Linked DNA regions of Homo sapiens: region 1 is linked to region 2. Evidence: fine-mapped expression QTL. Tissue or cell type: whole blood. Region 2 holds a variant in brackets; the other region holds the start of a gene. All regions are shown on one strand. Distances are between the middles of the regions.

Evidence for each region. PIP is the estimated chance that this variant, and not a neighbour inherited with it, causes the effect.
Region 1: it holds the start of AQP3, and the variant in region 2 is fine-mapped to the expression of AQP3 in whole blood (TOPMed, PIP above 0.99).

The regions. Positions count from the first base shown.
Region 1 is chr9:33,446,422-33,449,104 of GRCh38, reverse strand. AQP3 (aquaporin 3 (Gill blood group)) reads left to right here and starts at 1,512. Exons shown (of 6, transcript NM_004925.5): 1 at 1,512-1,682. The coding sequence starts at 1,575. RefSeq lists a silencer at 1,337-1,526.
Region 2 is chr9:33,415,303-33,417,985 of GRCh38, reverse strand. No RefSeq gene overlaps it. Among named protein-coding and RNA genes, the nearest start is that of AQP7, 14 kb to the right of the region's middle. RefSeq lists an enhancer at 2,350-2,683. The variant C/G (reference allele first, on the strand shown) is at 1,113.

The DNA.
Region 1 (2,683 bases), 31 kb before region 2:
GGGCAACATAGCAAGACCTCATTTTTACAACAGATTTTTAAAAATTAGCTGAGTGTCATGGTGGCACATAGTCCCTATAGTCCCATCCATTCTGGAGGCTGAGGTGGGAGGATCACTTGGGCCCAGGAGTTCGAGGCTACAGTGAGCTGTGATTGCACCACAGCCTGGGTGATGGAGCAAGACCCTACTCTTTAAAAAGAGAGAGAGGGCAAGGTTGTCCCATGATCCCCCTCAGATAGGGCTGACTCCCCCATAATTAAGTTTGCTTAAAGAGGCAGACTTGCTGGGCTCAGTGGCTCACGCCTGTAATCCCAGCACTTTGGGAGGCTGAGGCGGGTGGATAACTTGTGGTCAGGAGTTCGAAATCAGCCTGGTCAACATGGTGAATCCCCATCTCCACTAAAAAAACAAAAATTAGCTGGGCATGGTGGTGTGCACCTGTAATCCCAGCTAATCGGGAGGCTGAAGCAGGAGAATCACTTGAACCTGGGAGGTGGAGGTTGCAGGGAGCCGAGATCACGCCATTGCACTCCACCTAGGCGACAGAGAGAGACTCCGTCTAAAAAAAAAAAAGAGACAGACTCTTCCTTGGCTGGGGGTAAGTCAGATGGGAGAGGAGAGGGTTAAAAACAGCTGGGACTCAGCCTGCTGGCAAACATGTGGCATGTGGCATGTCGGGGCAACTGCAGCTCAGCCTCTGGAGCCATGTGAGCAATGCACGCAGGTACACGTGTGACAAGCTAGGTCACCTAGCCATGTTCAACAGGCATGTGCACAGCCACGAGGAATGCCCAGCCGTACAATTAGGCACACAGGACATCCGCCATGTGTAGACACAGCTGTGGACATAGCTGGCCAGGACATGCGACACACGACGTGCTCATAGCACAGGGAGAAGGGCCCATGAAGTCTGGTTGGAACTCAGCACGTGTGTCTGTGTGCCCACCTGAGTCTGGACTGCTGCCCCTCTGACACTAGCTGTCCCCTTGAAGGGTCGGTGCCTTATCTGTCCTGACAGAAGAGACAGTGTTGCTTCTCACTTGGGGCTCGCAGCCTCCTCCTCCTGCCTCGAACTGAGGATCTGTTGGGTCCAGTCATCCTGGAGAGATGCGGCCAGTTTCTTTCTGACAGGTCTCCTCCTGCCCGCAAGGAAGTGGGGTGATCACAGGGCGCAGGTGGTCTCTATGACAGCTGCATCCTCTCCAGCCATGGCCCTGAACCCTGCCTATAATCCCACCATTGGCTCTCAGATCTGCCTAAGCCTCTCAGCCCCCTTGACGTCCCCTCCCTTAAGCGCCCTCCGAAGGCCACCCGTCCCTCAAAGCTCCTCACACTCCATGCCCGCAGCTCCCTCCACCCGGCGTCCGCACCAGCCTCCCAGCCGAGGTGGGGCGGGGGCGAGGGGGCGCGCACTCCTCGGCGCTCCGGGACTGCAGGGCGGGGCTGCAGGGCGGGCGGGGCCCGTGTCTCCAGCGCTCCTATAAAGGGAGCCACCAGCGCTGGAGGCCGCTGCTCGCTGCGCCACCGCCTCCCGCCACCCCTGCCCGCCCGACAGCGCCGCCGCCTGCCCCGCCATGGGTCGACAGAAGGAGCTGGTGTCCCGCTGCGGGGAGATGCTCCACATCCGCTACCGGCTGCTCCGACAGGCGCTGGCCGAGTGCCTGGGGACCCTCATCCTGGTGGTGAGTGGAGGGAGCCGGGGAAGCCCTTCTCTCTCCAGCCCTTGCACTCCCCAAACTCTCACTTCCCCGAAGGGGCTGTGTTTTCCAAGGTAGCCTGGACCCACCTCCCCAGCTGTGACCCCCACGCTTAACCGCGGAGGATCAAGCTGACTTCCAAAGTCCTCTTCCCCACGGTTCTAACCCCCTCTCTGACAGCTCCGACTCTTGCCAGAATGACAGCTGTTACTCCCCAGTGATAGTGCCGATCGTTTACCCTCCCACAAGTGACTCAGCCAACAGGCTGGGGGCAGCGGTCACGCTTGCAGTCTGGGACAGCCAGCCACTTCCCCTGCCTCCCACACCCCTCCAGATTCCCAGAATCCCAGCCCCCAGATGTAGGGGAGGGGGCGGAGGCAAATGAGCCATTATTAGGTTATTTGGGTCCTGGGTGTCTGGCCTCTAATGAATAATTAAGCCTCAAAAAGTCCAAAGGTTGAAGTGAGTGAGGACAGTTTGCACGAGTGGGGGCAGAGGGTGCAGGCCACATGGGCTGCGAACAGCGAAGTGGGAAGGGAGGCAGATTCTGACGGTAGAAGGGTGGGAGGAAGCTAGGCCCAGGCACAGAGGACGCGTGTCTAAAGTTGCTCACCTGGTGCTCAGCGACTCCCAGGCCCTGTCTGTTATCCAGACAGATGCTGTCAGCGTCTGTGCAGAAGACGACAAGCATTCTGGTTACTCCCTGGCCTCTTGGTTACTCTGTGGGTTCTCTGAGTGAGCATTTCCCTGCCTGAGTTACTCCTCAGTCCTAGTTACTCCTTGGTCACACCAGTTTCACCCTGGTTTTGTTCTGAGTGACTCTGTTTGCACTTCTTAGGTCTGGCAGACCCACCAGTTATGTTCTATTTCCTGTCCCAGTTACTCTGATTTTTCAGCCGCTCATGTGGTTACACCTGTTTTCCTCTGTGTTCAGTTGCTACATTGCAGTGAGTGGGTTACTCCGTTCCTGCCCCAGCCCTGGGTAG
Region 2 (2,683 bases):
CCTCCCAAATTGCTGGGATTACAGGTGTGAGCCACCATGCCCAGCCGAGTGACGCATGTACAAAGTTGACCATGTATTTACAGATACGTCTGGCACAGAGTAGGAGTTGAGGACATTCTTTAGACCCAGCAAGACTTGTCTTGGTAACTAATTGGGTGTGCTGGCAAAGCACAGGAGGAGCCAGGAGGGCTTTTAACCAGCTTCCTTCATCTGGGGGACGATCAACTCACCTGGGCTACTCGGGTTTCCTGGTTTTCTGTCTATGTTTGCAGACTGCCCCTCTGTCCTCAGGGAGTTCCCAGACTTGGGGACAGACTTCTGAGCAGGAATACAGAGGTGAGAGAGGGCAGGAGGGGACAGAGCCCGTCTGGGCCTAGAATGGGGCTCTGTGCTCAATAAGAGGCGCAAAAGGTATGAATTATCAACAAGAAGGGGTTCCATGGGGGGCATAGTTAGGAGTCTCAGGGTTTGGACAGAGGAGAGGAGAGGGATGGGTCCTGCTGCCACCCTGGTTTTTCCCTGAGGCATCTGTACAGAAGCAGAGGTCTGGTAGTAGCCCATGAGGTGCAGCGACAGCTCAGCTGCAGATATATATTGTAAAGGAATAGAGGTGCCTTTCTGGCATGAGTCTTGGCTGAGGGTGTGGGTAGGATTTAATAAGGGTGGAGGTAAGGGGTTTGGGGGCGCTGGAGGCTGGTGGTTGGGCGGGCCCCACGCAGGGTGTTGGTCCCTTGAAGCCACAGCTGTCAGCTTGTGGCTTCCCATCCTGCTAGCTCAGCAGGTCCCACAGGTTGGCAGGTGACTCACCCCTCACCCTCAAATGGTCCTTGCTCTGAAAGGGGTAGGAGGGATGCAGAATATAGCACCTGTGTGTTCACCTATATGGGCGCAATGCTGTGTTACACACCTGGGTCCAAGATGTGTACCCGTGTCTGACTGAGCATACATAGGGAGTCCCCAGGCACACAGCCCCCTAGACTGTGTGCCACAGGTGCGAAGGGGGCATGTGGCATGGGCGGAGGTAGTGTGGATGAACACACAGCACTTCCCAGAGCACACGCACATGTGACAGGTGTCTTCCTGAAAAGAAGGATTGCAGCTTCAGAGCCTGT[C/G]GAGCCATAAGAAGCGGAGGTCTGAGAGGTGGGAAGGGCTCTCTAATGACAGCTCATCTTCCCCAAGAAGGACTTGGCTGGATCAGCTGGCAGAGCTGGGCACCCTAAGCCTGTGGTGACGGCAGCAGCTTCCCTAACCTTATCCCTAAGCTCCCGGCTGCAGGCCAGGGTGGTTCCACTGTCCTAACCCTGAGACGGCATTTACACCCCACAGGCCACACAGGCAGGCTGGGAGCAGTGAGTGGCAGGTGGGCACTCAGTCATTGCTTTCTCTTACCCCCTCTGCAGGCAGGAGGGACGTGAGGGTCCTGGCTGCGTCTGGTCTGAGGGGCTGTGGGGTGAGCACGTCAGCCCCAGGTTGCGCATGCCCCTGGTTTGTGTGGCACTGTATGCACACTCCACAACTTGGTGTGTTGGCCCCTGCCCCGGCACCTGGGGCCTGGTGCTGCCTTCCCATCACACTCCATGATCTGAGAGATGCTTGAAGAGGGCCAAAGAGTCTGGACTAGGAGCCAGGAAGCTCTCACTTGGTGACTTTGGAGATGTCCCTTTACCATGTCTGGGGCTCAATTTGTAGAGGGGCAATAATCCCTGTGGGGTCACCTTGCCAGGCTGCTGGGTAACAGATTCTCATGGAGGCGCACGGAAAGTCAGGAAAGCTCGGTCCTGGAGGCTTCCTATGGGGGATGGTGGTGTCCCCTGTGTTGCTCGGTTGAAGGACTAGGGGCTGAAATCAGATCGCAGCCTCCAGGGAACTTGCACTGCCCCACAGAGGGGTTCAGACCTCCTGGAGATGTGAGGCATTAGAGTTCTGGGGCTGAGCTTCCAAATAAACTTCAAAACAGTGATGTGACAGGCCAAGACCTGCTCTCAGTGAGGCTGGAAAAATCCTTCCACCCATCCCTGCCCATGGGCCCCGACCCTGCTGCTGGAGTGAGCTGCCATGAACTCCAGCCTGAGCCCGGGAACCAGCTCAGATCTTACCCTGTCTCTCATTTGCCTCCGTCCCCACCCCCAGCCTGCTGCCTCTCAGGTTCACACTTCCTGGGCTCAGAGTTTCATCCTGAGGCTGTTGGCTCAGCCAGAGCAAACAGAGACAGCACTAAAGTCAACAAAACCAGAGAGCAAGCAGCGCAGGTGACGTGGAAAAGAAAACTTGGAAGCCACAACAAAGGCATGTGGGCTGGGCCGGGTGGAGCCCTTGAGGGGACTGGAGTTGGGGACGCACGGGTGACACCTCCAGTGGACTCAGGCTAAAGGAGTCAGCTTCGGCTGCCAGCAGGGGGTGCTAGAGCCAGTCTCATGGGTGCTGAAAACAGGATGAGGTTGGGAGTCTGGGGGTTAAGGTTCCACCTTACCCAAACCCATCTCACTGAGGCTCTTGGCTGGGTTGCCTCAGCTGCTGTGAAAGGAGTGAGAGGCTCAACTAGGGGCCAGGGTTGTGGGTAGGGGCGTGCAGGGCGGGAGTAGACAGGCTGGAACAGGAGAAAGGAGGAGCTCCCGGCTCACTGCCCCACCCCAGGTGCTTCCCCCGCACCCCCTCGCCCAGGGCTCAAGGGCTTGGAGCCGTG